Linked DNA regions of Homo sapiens: region 1 is linked to region 2. A link means that fine-mapping ties the variant in region 2 to the expression of a gene that starts in the linked region. Tissue or cell type: whole blood. Region 2 holds a variant in brackets; the other region holds the start of a gene. All regions are shown on one strand. Distances are between the middles of the regions.

Region 1 (8,899 bases), 28 kb before region 2:
TTTCTCAGTTGAATAATATCTTTGTGTGCATGTACCACATTGGCTCTATCTCCAATATTTGGGTATTTAGATATTTTCCAATATTTTGCCATTATAAATAATGCTTCAATGAATAACTTGGTGCATAATATTTTCCTTTTTTTAAGGTGTATTTTCACAGAAAATTCCTAGTAGTGGGATTGCTGGCACAAACGGCAAATGCATACATTGTGTTGTCAGATATTGCCATATTCTACTGCATAGCAGTTGTGTCACCTTGCATCTCTACCAGCAATGTGTGACAGTGCCTGTTTCCCAATAGCCTTTCCACATAAAGTGTGATACCTTATAATTTTTCCAATTTGGTGAGAAATTGTATATCAGTGTAGTTTTCATTTGCATTTCTTACATCATAAATGAGGTCAAACACCTTTTCATATGTTTACCAGCCATTTTATATCTTTTCTGTGAATTGTTTGGTCATGAGTTTTGCCCGTTTTCCTATTGTTTGGCCGCCTTCCTGCTTAAATTTTGAGTCAGCTGGAGAATCTTCAAGAGCCTGCAGTGAAGTCAAACTGTCTGCTACTCCAGGCGTGGTCTGTAGGTGAGCAGCATCTGATTTAGGAGCTTGACATCACCTGGAATTTGTTAGCCCTGTAGGCTCTTGGGCACCACAGCTGACCATCTCAATCAGAATTGCATTTTAACAAGATCCACAGGTGACTTATACACATAATAAAATGCGACATGCCCTCGTCTCAGCTATCTCTTAAAGACCTCATATTCCATTTCCTCTAAGAATGTCTCCTAAGTAAAACAGAAGTGAAAGAGGGGATTACATTCTTCCAGTAACATGAACCCTAAGTGGTATCTGGAAACATGTGTTAGATTAATTGTAATACCTTTCCCAGATGCTCTGTCTTGAAGAGATGTGTTTTCTACTTATGTTACCTAGCGGAATAAACAAGAGCCTACTTCTAAGCATGAGTTGATTAATTTCAAAAAACAAATTTGTAAAAAAAAAAAAAGTTTTTAGGTTGGTGCAAAAGTAATTGCAGTTTTTGCCACTGAAATAAAAGATGCAATTACTTTTGCACCAACCTAATAAATGAAGTATAAAGGTAGTGAATGTTCATTAAAAAAATTCAGTCAGGCCGGGCACGGTGGCTTACACCTATAATCCCAGAACTTTGGGAGGTCAAGGTAGGAGGATCACTTGAGCTCAGAAGTTTGATACCAGCCTGGGCAACATAGTGAGACCCTGTATCAACAAATAGTAAAAAAAATTAGGTGGGCGTGGTGGCATGCACCTGTCCTCTGAGCTACTTGGCAGGGTGAGGTGGGAGGATTGCTTGAGCCCAGGAGTTCAAGGCTGCAGCGAGCTATGATGGCACCACTGCTCTCCTTCCTGGACAACAGAGCAATAATCTGTCTCAAAATAAATAAATAAATAAAATTCAATCAGTGCAAGGATAAAATAAAGAACGAAAGTCCCCTTTCACACTTCCCTGTGACAGTGCACAGGAGTGCCTCCTTTTTATGGGTCACTTGTTATTTTTGCTAAAAACAGATATACTCTTTCAAGATATATCCAGAAAAGATTTTAAACTAATTATATGTTATTAAGACACATACAAATCCTAAAGCAAACTTAACAAGGAAATGATGTAGTAAGAGGTTATCATTAAACATGAGTAATGCTTGAATTATAAATTTGGGTGTAGTACAGTCATTTACATGCAAATTTCAGAACTGGCTGCAATTATATTTCATCTCCACTACCTACTAGTATAATTTTCAACAGAAAGAAAAGCTTTCTTCCTATAGTTTGGAAAAACAAAGATGAGGTTACTCCATCAAGCTAATGTAGGTGGATGTATCTTCTACCGTACCTGAGACACCATCCACCCAGTCCAGCCAGAGGTCAGCCTCATCCCAGGTAGCCAGGTAGCACCCTCTTTTGGGCTGATGCTCTGCCCCTCTGTAGGTATGACTGCTCTCCAGGAAATAGTGATGCCAAAAGAATTCACACAATTCCAGGCCCACTCTGGTGGAAATTTTAAAAATAGCCTTTGGCCAGCATGTTGGTTTCCCAGGACTGCTGTAAAAGTTCCACAAACTTAAAACAACAGAATTTCTTCTGTCACTGTTCTAGAGGCTAGAATTCTGAAGTCAAGGTGTCAGCAGGCCATGCTCCCTCTGATGACTTTAGGGAAGAATCCTTCCTTGCCTCTTCCAGTTTCTGGTGGTTCCCAGTGATCCTTGCTGTTCTGTGGCTTGCAGGTGTGCAGTATTCTCCTTCCTACCTTTGTTGTCACATAGTATTTTTCCTTTGTGTATGTATTTGTGTCTCTTCTTATAAAGACACCATTCAGGCTGGGCGTGGTGGCTCACGCCTGTAATCCCAGCACCTTGGGAGGCTGAGATGGGCGGATCACCTGAGGTCAGGAGTTCGACCTGACCTCAGCCTGGCCAACATGGCAAAACCCCTTCTCTACTAAAAATACAAAAAATTAGCCAGGTGTGGTGACAGGTGCCTGTAATCCCAGCCTCCTGGGAGGCAGAGGCTGCAGTGAGCTGAGACTGCACCACAGCACTCCAGCCTGGGCAACAGAGTGAGGCTCTGTCAAAACAAACAAACAAACAAACAAACAAACAACCATTCATACTGAATTAGGGCCCACCTATTCCAGTAGGACCTCACCTTAAGTTGGTTACATGTGCAAAGACCTATTTCCAATAAGGCCACATTCACAGGTACTGGGTTTGGAACTTCAATATATCTTTTGGGGGACTACAATTCAACCCAGAACAGTAGGGACCAAGTTTCTGCTGAAACTTTAACACTAGGAATGTCCCATTTGTTATCAACAGCACTTCACCAGGAAGAAGAGGCTCCACTCTGGGTTGCTGGGTCCATCTTCCTGGGCTTAGTTCACGTTTCCATGCCGCCTTGTCTGTCAGAACCTGTGCTTGGTTAGACATTGCCAGTGACTACTGTTGGCACATTGTCTGTTGTTCTCTGCTTCCTAAATGAAAATCTGCCAATTCTAGAATATACTGAATCAGCAAGTAAGTACAGAATTTAGGAGTGGTAGAGATATGGATAAAATTGGTAGGTTTGGGGAATTCTTCACTTTCCAGATATACATATATTTAAATAAAATTTATGGTAGGTCATTGTCTTGGACTGAGCTCCTGAACTAGGCCCCAACAGACCAGACTAAAATGAAGCCACTGTGTTAGGTGCCACGTAACTAAACAGAGATTTTAAAAAACAGGAAAATCCCCAAAAGGGCCAGTTTTCCAAAAACCAGGAGATTCACAGCAACCAGTCAAACGGGGCCCAGTCAGCCTGAGCCAGCTAAGGCAGCCCCCTCTGCTTTAACCCATAAAGGAGAGTAACCTGAAGTTACCCGATGTGCTTTCGGCACTATGCTTTTCCCTTGTTCCTGCTTAAGTTACCTTAACAAAACCCAGCTGTTCTTCCATTCCCACAAGAGCTCCCGTCTATTTTGTAGTCAGAATGCTGCCTGGTTCATGCATTGCTAATAGAAGCCAATTAGATCTTTAAAACCATTTGTTGAAATTTTGTTCTTTAGACTACACACACACACACACACACACACACACACACACACTCTACTGTAATCATATAGCTCTTAAAAAAAGAAAAGAAAAAAGAATATAAAACCCTACAACCTTAGGTGCTTTTGTTGTTGTTTTTAATTTAAAAAGACAAAATTGTTCGCCTTGTATAGAAGTAGATACAGCTTAGAGAGCCAAGGTAACAAGAGGGGAAAAGTTTGTGTTGTCTGGTACTTTTGAGGGAGTCAGAAGCCTAAAGGGAGGCTCTAACTCATGATTCTCAGAAGACAACTGTTGTCAACAGTTCAAATGAGAACTGAACGGCCACACTCCTGCAGCTGAAAGGAGTCAATGCGAGCTGAGTTGCTCTCACCGAACAGAGTGCGTTCCCCGGGGAGGCAGGGAAAGGCCGGCTTGCACCTGCTCTGTCACCCAGCTCCACTCTTAGGACAGAAGAGGTCTGGAAAATGTCTGGGCCATTCCCTCATTTCACGGAGGAGGAAATGGGTTAGTGTGTAATTGTTTTTATCATCACCCTTGTTTTATCTTTCAATCTGCCAGGCTCACTCAATGCTACATCCTGCAGTCCCCACCCACTGGAGAAACAATCCGATCCTGCAAGTAATTATTGAGTGCGGACGGCATACCTCACCTCCAGACCTGCCCATTAAACCCAGAACGGAGGTGTTTTGCTCTCTGCGCTAGATCGGTATTTTCCCCTACCACTTTAAGATTACGCTTCAGGCCAGTGTTAGGCTTTCTGGTGGGGTGGGACGCAACAGGCGGCCTCCTCCACCGCAGCGATGGCGGCTATGAAACCTCTGGGTATTTGGGCGGGAGGCGCGGCAGGTATTCTCCCAAAACTGGGTTTTCAAGACCACCACTCTCTGCGGAGGCCGACCCGGCAGGTAAGGAACTGTCCATCGGAAGGCAACGGGCGTGGCGTGAGCAGCCCGACCAATCAGCAGAGCCGCCGTTCAGTCAGGCTCCCCGCCCGGGGTACCCGCCCAGTCCCCAACCACTGAGCATGCGCCGCGGGCCTGGCGCAAATCCCCGCCTGGCGCGCCCTCTCCGCGGCCCTGTGAGGGTTAGGCTGCGCCGGGCTTCCTCAGAGAGACAGAAACGGAGCCGGGGCGGGAGCGGGCCCTTAGGGACAGGAAAGCGGTTAGGGTATTGGGGGGAAAGTCCCTCACAGGGTGGCTGTCGCTAGCGGCCGCCAGCTCTGCGTCACGGTGGGCTCGCAAGCCGGCGCATCGCAGTTTCCCTGGTACCCCGCCTGGCGGTCCGGCGCGGAGGGGCGGCAGACCGGCTAAATCGGCCCCAGTGAGGGCCGCCGTGTCACCTGAGCCCCTTCCAGGCCGTTGTCCTCAGGTTACAGGCGACATAACCGAGGCTCCGAAGTATTGCCCACGTCCAAGGTGACGCAGCTGGCCGTCCCGGCGGGCCGGAGTCTGGGAGTCTCCCACGCCTGGCCCGGCCCAACCGTCATCGTCCCGCCGCGAGCTCCGTGCCTCCGGGGACTGAACGGTGGGGAGGCCGAGGCGCCACACGAGCGCGCGGCGCCCCGCGCCAGGTTCCGAGCAGGGACGCTCCGTCCAGGTCCGCCTGGCCGGCCGCGGGTTCCGATCGGTGCCACATAAATAAAGGCTACTTTCCTGAGACCTCTGTCCCCGCAGAGGCCCCGGGCGCAGAGGGGGGGCGTGGTGCACCGAGCTCCGACCCTGCCGGTGACTTCGGGGTCCCCTCGAGCGCAGCCGGGCTCCCTGGGCAGGAAACCCTGCTCCGAAACCGCGCATCGTCCAGCCTCGGCTGTGCGCCCTCTTGGTGGCGTGCGCAGTCCCCTCCTCCGGTCTTCGGACGTGCGGCCCGGGGCGGAGGCGGCCCCGACCCCCCACCTTCCCCAGTGAGGGTCCCGCGCGGCACGCCGCCCCTGCCAGTCCGGCCGCCTAGCTCCAGCGCCGGGCCGCGCCGACCTGCCTGGCCCGCCGTCCCGCCGCGGCGGCCCCTCCTCCGCCGTCCGGGCGCCCCGCCCCGCCCGCGCCGCGCCGGACACCCCGCCCCGAGGAGGCGGCCCGGCGAGTGGTCGCCGAGGGAGGCTGGTGGCATGGGGGAGCCGCCGCCGCCACACGCACGGTCGCCCGGAGCGAGCCCGGGCGCTGCTGCGATCGCGGGGGGCCGCGGACGCCGAGGGGGGCGCCTTGGGGCGTGACACGGTGCAGAGGGCGCGGCCTGGGCTGCGGCGGCCGGACTCGCGGCGAGCAGCGGGGGGAGCAGGCGGCGGCGGCGCCGGGAGCGGCGGGCGGAGCGGGCCGGGCGCCGAGGGCGCACCTGGCGGCCGCGCGGCCGGGCCGGGCCGCGGGAGCAGGCGGAGGCGGAGGCGGCGGGGGCAGGAGGATGTCGCAGCCGCCGCTGCTCCCCGCCTCGGCGGAGACTCGGAAGTTCACCCGGGCGCTGAGTAAGCCGGGCACGGCGGCCGAGCTGCGGCAGAGCGTGTCTGAGGTGGTGCGCGGCTCCGTGCTCCTGGTGAGTGCGGGACGACCGCGGGCCGGGGGAGGATGGCGGGGGCGCAGGCAGCTGCGGGCCCCGGGCCGGGCGCCTCTTAGTCGGCAGGGCTGAGGCAGAGCGGCCGACCCTGCTGGGTCCGCGGAATCAAGAGGTGGGGCCGGCGGGAGGGAGTTGGACAGGGGAGAAGAGAAGGTCCTGGAGGGGCTGCAACTCCCAGACCCCTCCCCGCCACCCAAGATCCTGTCCCCATCGCTGTCCCCTTCCTCCTGGGAAATTTCCGCAGAGTGATGTCGCCCTGTCACTCTTTTCACCCCGCTCTCTCCCAATTTACCTGCTTTCTGTCAACTGGGAAATTACACTCTCCCCCCTCCCCCGCATCCCTCCCCCGTATCCCTCCCCCGGCCTCCCTCTCCTTCCATGTTTTGGAGGGGCGCAGGGGAATTGAGGTGGGGGCTTCCTCATCCAGTCTGCGCTCAGGGTGGGAGATGCCCCTGCTAACCCTTTGAGTTGGCTGAACTCCAGGAGGGAAGGACTTCGGCATCCTCTCCTGCGCCCCCCACCTCCAAGCCGGTATCCTGAAGTTTGGCCGCCTTTTAGGAAGGCTTGGGGGGCATGATGGGAACCCTCGCTAATTTAGTATTGGTGCAAATTCCTGTGACGTTTGGGGGTTCTAAGTAAGCAAAGCCATCAGCCCAAAACGAATCTTCCCGTGGCAGAACGTCTTTAGAGAATAGGCCTCTGGGTGTGAGGAAGATGAAGTTTTCGATTAACTTTTTCACAGCCAGCGCCGGTCCTGCTGTATTTGGAAACGCACTACAACCCGATTCACCTGGATGGTGCGGGAGTGGAGCGACGTTTGAGCAGGAGCGAGCTCTGCAGGGCAGCTGGAAACTTTTAGCAGCTCCTTGCGTTGCCGCCGGCATTTGTTTTCTTGAAACGGGCTTGTTTGTGGGTGGGTGTGACTTGTGTTTGTTGGAACAGTGCAAGAAGATGGGCCTTGGAAGTGGTTGTCTGGGCCCTGTGGGGGATTGTCGGGGCAGAGTGCCGGGCCCCTTAACACAGGGGCGGATGCATCATTTTGGTGGCAGATCGATGCCCTTCCTGGGCAGACACAGAATTGCGTGAATGACGTTTGTGGAGATTGGAGATGAAGCTTCGCTGATTTCTATATCCAGTTTGCTCAGTTTGAATTTTCTCTCGATTGCTAGCTCTGCCAACTCCAAATTTCTCCAACTCCAGTTTGATCCATAGTAAACAAGGATTTAATTTTTCTATTTTAGGGAAGTCGATTAGGTAAGGAGTAGAGCAGGAGTTGGGAATAGACCAGAACCTGGCCATCTCTTCCATAACCAGCTAACTTCTGTGTGGCTTCCTGCATCTTCCTGAGTTTTGCCAGTGCATGTTAAGGATAAAGCCTGCAACTTCTTTGGCATCTTTTCTGTTCTCACACAGAAGTTGGTTCCTTTATCTGGGGCCTGCCGTGGTCATCAGGGATTTGAGGCAGAAGAAGAGTAAATAAAGTGTACCAGTGTGCCATGATTTCCAAAGTGCTGCAGGTACTGGTTTAATAAGCCGTGTAGATGGAGCCCAGGAGTGCTGGTGCAGACACAACACTGCTGATGTGCAGTAGTCCCCGAATATCTGCCCTTCCCATCGGAGGATGGCCTACTAATGGTGACCTAGGAGTGTCCATTCCCACGTGTGACAGGCTGCCAACTGTGTTATCTCATGATACTTTAGTAGTACATCCGTTTTCCCTGGACACCCTTAAGCATGAAGAGCCAGATGCCCGGCTGTTGTCTTAACTCTTAGTCTCGTCTGTCTGTGGTCACTTGTCTGATGAAACCTGTGATGGAACAGATACAAAATGCAGGGAAGCAGGTGGGCCTGCTCTGGCATGTGAGGGCCCCTGGCTGAATGGGAAATAGGAAATGCATTGTGATGGTTCTGAATTGCAGAAGGAAGAATCTGGGAGGGCTTACAGATACTGAAAATTACCCACACACCTCATCCCCCCACCTCCTTCCTGGTACTCTGCCACTGCTTACTTCCTCTAGTGGCTCCAGTGTCTGCCAGGGAGCCACAGCAGGTGCACCTGCCACATAAGTTCTGGCCGGGCTTTGTTGTATGAAGGTCTAAGAGGTGAGGTAAGGTAACCCTGGACTTCTCAGGAGGCAGAGCAGCAACCACGCCAGGTTCAGAATCCCATGGTCTGTGCATCTGTCCTTAGATGGAAATAATTACTCTGTGTCTGATAACTTGGGTCAGCACTAATACAATGCCCACAACATAAATGCTCAATAAATATTCTTATCTAGCTAATAAAGCAGTTCTGCAGATGGATTTAAAAAAAATTAAACTATGTGTGGGTTTAGTAGCTCTTCCCACACTTCAAGTATTGATGAGTGGATGGTCATGAGATCAGAAACAACAAAATGAAATAGTTCAGTGGATGATAAAGGCTGCCATTAAAAACAAGCTTTAAAATGTAAACATAATGTGGGCTTATCCATTTTTCATTGTTCAATAGCTTCATTTTTCATGTGTTCAGGTTCATGGACTTTCATGAATGATTTTGTATTAATTTGTTTGAAAAGCTTGAAAATAAGCATACAAAAAGTAGAGAGAATAGTATAATGAACCTTCATATTTCATCATCCAGATTGAATAATTATTGAGATTTTGCCAAACCTGCTTCATATGTCTCTTCTTCCTATTATTTTTCATGTGTGATTGTGAGTCCCAGGCCTTATATCATTTCACCTCTATATAACTAGTATATGTTACTTAAAAATAGGGTCTATTCTTACATAACTGTGTCATAATA
Region 2 (8,000 bases):
GGAGTCGCAGGGTGGAGGAAGGTGTTTGGACACCTGGGTACCCACACCCAGGTGAGGCCTAGCCCCAGCATTTGGTAGGAATGTGTGTATTCTCTGCTCGGTGAGGCCTTCTAGGCTGGGAAGGGTTCCCCACAGTCTGGGTAGGGCCGTAGGGCTGTCACCAGCAGTGTCATTTTGGCTCACTAGCCATGAATAGAGCACGACATCTTTCAGTATGACCCAGGCTTGCTTTTCATCGTTCGTTTGTCCCTGTTCTTTTCTACCTTGCCTCTGTCTAGACTTACTGCACAAGCCTTCCTGTTGGTTCTTTTCTTTTGTTTCTTAAATCCTTCTCTAATATTCTGACATAGAGAGTGATTCTTTCTGTTGCTGGCTTTCCTGGACCTCTTGTATTCTGAGTCGTGAACCTTCACATGGGTCTTTTCCTAATTCGGTCCCTTATCTGACAGTGGCTGGTTTGTCTTTCTTCAAAAGATGGTGTCATGATGGATGCCCAGCAAATGGTAACACCCGCAGAGTAGTAGAGAGTAGATTCGGGGACCCTGGGCTGGCAGCTCCATAATTCTTTCTCCCTTTTCTGCCAAAGAGACAGGATATTAAACCACTGAACTGGCGCGGTCCTGGGCTGCCTGCCAATGGAATATTTGGGGAGAGAATGGTGCAGCTTTTGTTTCTCTTGCCTTCTGTGGAGCCCTGGGGTGGATTCTGAAGGGATGTTTTCCCTCGCAGGAGTAACCCATTTGGTATTGAGAAAGCAGGAAAGCAAGTTTTCCTGTTACGAGCAGTGAACAAAAAGCAGAAAAGCAGGCAGCGGATGGCGATATCCTGTTGTAGAAGGCTTGCGGGAGCGAATGCAGACAAGTGCCCCTCATTCTTTCCGTGTCTTTAAGAAAAGCCAGGAGATGAGAAGGAAATTGGTTACTTTGCAGGCCACATCCAAATGGTTTTCCTCTTATTTATGGTGCTTATCAAGGAGGTCATAAGTGTATGTTTTGTGATTTAAAAACTTGTCAGACCAGAGATCTATAACACATGACAAATTAGAAAAACGAAATAGATTGGTGGGTTTTTTGGTTGGTTGGTTTCCCATGAGGTCATTCGAAGTTTGCTTGGGAGGGGGCAATGAACTGTAAAAGTAAATGTAAACTTTATACAAGTTTTATTTATTTTTAAGTTTAAAATCACTTAAAGATGGCACAATTCCTACTGAGTTAGATTTATAAGAAGTTGGCTTGTCAGATGCTCTTAGGGGACCTTTCTTTGGTACATTTTACAATGAACTAGGGATGGGCATGGTGGCTCATGCCTGCAATTCCAGCATTTTCAGAGACCAAGGTGGGAGGACCACTTGGGCTCAGGAGTTCGAGACCAGCCTAAGCAACATAGCGAGAGCCCGTCTCTACAAAACATAAAAAAATTAGCCAGGCATGGTGGCATGTGACTGTGATTCCAGCTAATTGGGAGGTTGAGGTGGGAGGATCACTTGAGCTTAGGAGTTAGAGGCTGCGGTGAGCTGTGATGGCGCCATTGTACTTCAGTCTGGGCAGCAGAGTGAGACCGTGTCTCAAAAAAAAAACAAAACCAAAAACAAAAAACAAAAAGCTTTTTCCTCTCTTATTACATGAGCAATACATGTTTATTATAGGAAAATTAGAAAACATTTACAGACAACCAAACAGTACCGGAATGGGATAGAAAGGCATGGAGGTGGAAAATGAGAGTGATGTGGTGAGAAGGAAAAGGAAGGTCGCCTGGGAGCAGTGGGGGTGGGGAGAGGGCCAGGGAAACCTCACTGGGATACTCAGGCCCCCAGTGAGCTCCCCTTCCTGTGAGGCTGCCTCACTTTGATACTACACCTTCTGTTGTGACTTTATACCCTTTGACGCTGGCTTCCCCAGTCTGCCATGGGTCTAGACCTGATCATTCCAGATTTGCTTGGCACTAGAAAACTGTAATGGCAAGTTGCAAGACCAGTTAATTCAGTGCATCTCCCATCTTGTTAGTCAAGGCGAGGGAGTGCTAGGCAAGGAGGGTCTCTAAGACAGGCAGATTTCTATCAGTGAGGGAGTGTTGTGTGTGTGACTCTTTGAGAATCTTGGCTATAAGGGAGATAATATTTTTTAAAAGATGCAGAAAAGTAAAATAAAATGTTTTTTTGGGGGAGGAGAAAGTGTACAGCAGTCCTTGACATCCTTCATTGTCTTTTTGACCCTCCTGTTCCCCTCAGTGTCTTGCCATATTGACAAATGCTTAGGTGTTCTATGGAATGAAACAGCTTGGGCTCACTGTTTTATCTCAGTAAACATTTATAGAGCAGCTGTCAGTAGAGTATACTTTCAGTCAGCTTTAGCTTATAAAGATGAGAGATCCTTAAAAGGCAAGGGATTAAACTGCCTTGGGCTTTTTTGTATCTGTGAAAACATATTTACTGTCAAATCCACTAGTTATTTTATTACAGGTAATGTAGGATTAACATGTAAAGGGAAAGTGAAGGCTCAGACTGGATAATCTGTTGATTTTGGTAACTTATTTATTTAACATGCATTCACTGAGTATTGTTACACACCAGCCACTCTGCCAGACCCTGAGGATAGAGCTGTAAATGGGACAGACTCAGCCCCTGACCTTGCAGACCTTACAGTCTGGTCAGGACCTAAGTAGCTGATCAGACAGTTCCAGTATAGTGGGATCAGGGACCCAAAGATACCCTAGACAGGATACTGCAGATGTGTGGGGTGCCCTGTGATGATATGAGAAAGGTACCTGCTCTAGACCCAAGGAGTGACATCTTATAAAGACAGATATTATAAGATACCATGTCTGTTATTGTTATGTTGGTAAGGACGTGGAGAGATTTGAACCGTCATACATTGCTGGTGTTAAATGGTGCAGGCACTTGGAAAACAGTTTGGCGTTTCTTCAGAAAGTTAAATATAGAGTTATTTGACCTAGTTCTATGACCCAGCAGTTCCACTCCTAGTTATATATCCAAAAGAATTGAAAATATGTTCACATAAAAATGTGTACTTGTGTGTTCTTAGTAGTATTATGGATAATAGCCAAAAAGTAGAAATAATCGGGCCAGGCGCAGTGGCTCACGCCTGTAATCCCAGCACTTTGGGAGGCCGAGGCAGGTGGATCATGAGGTCAGGAGATCGAGACCATCCTGGCTAACACGGTGAAACCCCGTCTCTACTAAAAAAATACAAAAAAATTTAGCTGGGTGCGGTGACGGGTGCCTGTAGTCCCAGCTACTCAGGAGGCTGAGGCAGGAGAATGGCGTGAACCCTGGAGGCGGAGTTTGCAGTGAGCCGAGATCATGCCACTGCAGTCCAGCCTGGGAGACAGAGTAAGACTCCATCTCAAAAAAAAAAAAAAAAAAAAAAAAAAAAAGTAGAAACAATCAAATGTCTGTAACTGATGTGTAGTATATCCACCCAATAGAATATTATTCAGCCATTCAAAGGAGTGGAGTACTGACACATGCCACAGTATGGATGAATCTTGATAACATTATGTGAAGTGGAAGAAGCCAGACGTAAAAGGCCACATATTGTTGCATTCCATTTATACGCGATGTCCAGAATAGCATAGAGACAGAAAGTAGATGAGTGGTTGCCAGGGACTGGAGGGAGGGGCATGGAGAGTGACTGCTGATGGTGTGAGCTTTCTTTTGGAGTGGTGAAAATTAGATTGTTATGATGATTGCATGACTTTGTGGATATATAGTAAAATGACTGAATTGTATGCTTTGGATGAGTTTTGTGGTATGTGAATTATATCACAAAACTTTATTAAAAACACAAGTTTGTATTTTGTCCTGAGGTTGGTTGAGAGCCTCTGAAGGATTTTAAACAGGACAGTGATGTGGTTGCATTTGTATTTTGGGAAGATCATTCTGGCTGCAGTGAAGAGTTGGCTTGGAAGGGACTGTTAGAATAATACAGATGAGGAACATTGGGAAATAGCTGCGGGAATGATAGGAAGTAGACAGGTCCAAAATCTAAAACTCAGTGGGGTTGGGTAATTGATTAGATGTAGGAGGGAGGGGAGAGGAATCAAGGATGATGCCTGTATGCCCAGCTGATCCATGGGTGGAAGAACAAGCAGGTGAGGGAAGAAAGATGACCTCGGCATGCCACAGCTGGACCCGTGGAGATGTCCCTGGAACAGGCCCATTGAGGTGTTGAGTAGGCAGCTGATACAGAGCTCAGGAACCCAGCATCTCAGGGGGCTTGCTAAAAATGCAAATTCTTGGACTCGACTGCAGACATTTGAGCCAGGATCTCTGGTCATGGTGTATTTACCATGGCC[C/T]GCCTTGAAGCCACAGTCGTGGGTGTGATTTCTAGTGGTGAGTGTGTAGAGGAGATGAGGAGTGGGTCCCTCACCATTTACAGGACGGGTAGTGGAGAGAGGACCTCACAGGAGACTGGGCCAAGGCCAGAGAGATAAGAAGCCTCCAGGAGGTCAGGTGTCAGGGAAGCCAAGGGAAGTGTGTTTCCAAAGCCAGGAGGCTTCCTGGGGTGCCACAACCTTCTGAGAGGTGAAGTGGGGTGTACATGCAGAGTTTGCACTGGATTCACCAGTGAAGTGATGGCTTTGGTAAGGGCCATGGGTGCTGCAGAGATGTCCCCAAAGCAGGGCTCGTGTGTGGCTGCTACATGTGCCCTATGAGTGCTTTAGGGGGTGGAGTCCTTGCAGTGCTTGAAGGGCAGCATGACCCAGCCTGCCTTCCTTGGCTCTGTTACCTTCTACAGTGTGGCCTTATTTGAGCATACCAGGTGCTTCCAGGCCTCCACTGGGTGAGGGTGGATGGGGGGAACCCTTGGTAAATGGCCCTGGCTCTATGGGGCACATAGAGCAGGATGAGGGAAGAGGTGCAGCATTAGGGCAGGGGGTCCTGGGACCTGCTGACACAAGCAGATGTCTCATCTGGTTCTTCACTGTGCTCTGTGGCCCCTGGCACTGTTTGTATCAAGATATCAAGTACTCTTGGCCAGGTGCAGTGGCTCATGCCCATAATCCCAGCACTTGGGGAGGCCGAGGTGGGCGGATCACTTGAGGTCAGGAGTTCAAGACCAGGCTGGCCAACATGGTGAAACACCTCTACTAAAAATACAAAAATTGGCTGGGTGTGGTGACGCATGCCTGTAATCCTAGCTATTCAGGAGGCCGAGGCAGGAGAATCACTTGAACCTGGGTGGCGGAGGTTGCAGTGAGCTGAGATGGTGCTGCTGCACTCCAGCCTGGGTGACAGAGTGAGACTCCATCTCAAAAAAAAAAAAAAAAGATATCAAGTACTGTTAGTACACTGTGGGTCAGAATCACCCCACCCAGGCCTGGGTGTTTTTGAAGTTGGGACATTTCATATTTTTCTTGGTTTGTTGGTCATGTACAGTTTGAGAGAGATATTGTATAAATACCCTTCCCCCTCTGTTTTGGCCGTCTTTTGCCTTTTGAAATATTGTCTAATAAAAGTTATGTAATTATTCTAGGATTGTAAATCTAGGTCTCAATCAGTATACAATCAGTTTTCAACATAACAGAATTACAGTGTATTATTACAGTGTATTATCAGTATAAGAAAAATAAATGGGAATGACAGTATGTTCAAACTCAGTTAAATGTGTGTCAATTAGTTTACTGTCCAAGGCGAGTGCCTGCTGATCTCTGTGTTGTAAGCTGGTGTGGCACTCCTGGATTGCTTATCTATGCTTTTGAAATTGCTTTTCTTTAAGGAAGGGATTGTTATTGTTTCAAACAGCTTTGAAGCTGTTCCACTTGTAAATTTATAATTTGTATTTTTAATCTTTATAAGTTGCATTTGCTTTTTCTTTTTTAAAGCAGCAAATCAGTGTTATGGAAACCTTTAGGTGTTAAATATTATTCTTTTATTTGGGAAATATTGCACAACAGCAAGATGTGGAAATCCTCCAAATGCAAGGTTGTCCCTGAGTCAGTGGCTTAGTAAAGAAATCAGAGGCGCAATGAAGATCTGGTCCTCAGCTCACCCAGGACTTACCGTGCCTTAGTGGCAGGGTAATTGTCTCAAAATTAAGATTTAAGAATACCATTTTCCCCCTATTCAGTGGTTACCTGTTTTGTGCTGTAAGATTTCAGGCCCAATATGTCAACTCGTAACATTTTGAGACTACTACTTATTTTTTCTTGTCTGTATGCTAGGAATTAGATGTGTTAATTTGGACTCTTGGTTGCAAGTGACAGAAACTCATTCCAAGTAATTAAAGGAAAAAAGGGATATATGTTGTAAGGACACAGTATGTCTCCAAGAACTAAAGGGTGGGGGTCCAGCTGAGTGTATTGAGGGGGTCCCAGCCTTCAAGATCCTCTCTTATCTCGGCTGCTCTCTAGAGTTTTTGGGTCCTCTGCCTGGAGATTGACTTTCTTTGCTTCTAGTCTACATGGTAGGAATTCGCTGTCTGAGAGACCAGCTACTTGGCAAGAAACTGGTCCTTCTCTCAGGCTGCTCTAATCCCCCAGGGAGGTGATCCACATTGGGTCCGATACCAAGTCATGGGGTCATCTGTAGGAATGTGGCTTCTCGGATCCCCGCTGCTGTACGCATGGCTCCTCAGGGCCACTGTCTTTCCTCAGGGCGAGGAGCTGCTCCTTGGCCTCCAGGGAAGGCCTGTCCTGGGGGGCCTTGCATCAGACCTGGCATGAATGACCCTGATTGCCACTGGGGGAAGGGAAAGAGGACATCTCAGAAAAACAACACGTTACAGGGAAAGGGAGGTGCCGGGCAGCCACCCCAGCAGGTGTACTCTCCATTAAATTTATTTTAGCTGAGAAAATAGAATTGGTGGGGGAGGAGTTTGTTGCCCCCAAACATAAATCCATCCAGAAATGACTTCTAGGTTGCTCATTTCTTTGCTCTGGGTGACTGGGAGCTGGTTTTTTAGCCAAGTCTGGGCCACACCTAGTTGAATCATTACAGACATAATATCTTTTTTCCCCTCAGTTAATGTATAAACTAATATTACTTATCTTTTTTAAAGATATTAATGTATCTTTATAATACTTTTGCATATTTAGTATGTAACCTTACTTTGATAATGTTTTCCAGTAAGATTTGTTGCTTTAAAAGACAAACTCTCAAACAACTTTATCAGTACCATTTAATGTGCCCAAACAATGTCAAACAAGCAATGATTGGATAGCCAGGGAAGCTGAATTGCCTGTTATTAGTTTGTATGGTGAAACATCTCACAATTGCACTTTCAAAAGTATTTTTTACATATATATTCTAAAAATGATCAAAACATTTGGCACTCCGTTTACAGGAAAAAAATATATATTTCCAGGGAAACTCTCTATGTTCACTAAACTGGAAAGACCTTGTGGAATTTAAATTTGTCATCTTCAAAGGCTTTGGTATAGAATACAGTAACCAGACCAGGTTCTGTTTCATTCAGCTACAAAGGCACTTTTGTTGTTACCATTCCACGTCCCTGTGATGCTTAGTGCAGCTGATATTTGGTCCTGACAGTGCTTTTGGAAAGCTTGGCTGATTTCTGAAAAAAATCCCAGATTCTTTGGCCTAGGAATTTATCATAGGCCTCAGATCCTGGGTCTAGTCACTGCAGACAGCTAGTATATGTTAAAAGCTGTCTTAGCCTGTATCTAGTGTCTGTCTTCATTTAAGGCTGGAGAAAGGCTGTACAGGCTTATTAGGCACAGCTGTTAGGAACCTAGAGAACAGTTGACAACTGTGTGCAATATTATGGTAATAGTATAACTTATTAATAATATCAATGTAGTCAATATTATCAATGTAATTGAGTAATACAGCTTAGGCCACAAAGAACTGCATATAGTTTTCCATTAAAATCCCAATCCACATTCCATATGCCTCTCTTCCTGCTCTGCCCTGCACAACTGACCCTGTGCGCCTGGCTGCTCCTCTCTTCTAATTTCTCCCATTGCGGTCCCCTCCACAGTTAAGCACCGGCTCGCTTTCTCTTAGGTGCGATGCCCCC

The links. PIP is the estimated chance that this variant, and not a neighbour inherited with it, causes the effect.
Region 1: DOCK9-DT starts here. The variant in region 2 is fine-mapped to the expression of DOCK9-DT in whole blood (TOPMed, PIP 0.98).

What each region holds. Positions count from the first base shown.
Region 1 is chr13:99,083,414-99,092,312 of GRCh38, reverse strand. It overlaps DOCK9-DT (DOCK9 divergent transcript), which reads right to left and starts at 5,590. Exons shown (of 1, transcript NR_047482.1): 1 at 3,688-5,590. It also overlaps a transcript of DOCK9 not described here. RefSeq lists enhancers at 3,905-4,464, 5,027-5,588 and silencers at 4,469-4,698, 5,279-5,338, 5,429-5,738, 5,779-6,258.
Region 2 is chr13:99,055,456-99,063,455 of GRCh38, reverse strand. It overlaps a transcript of DOCK9 not described here. Among named protein-coding and RNA genes, the nearest start is that of DOCK9-DT, 27 kb to the left of the region's middle. The variant C/T (reference allele first, on the strand shown) is at 4,315.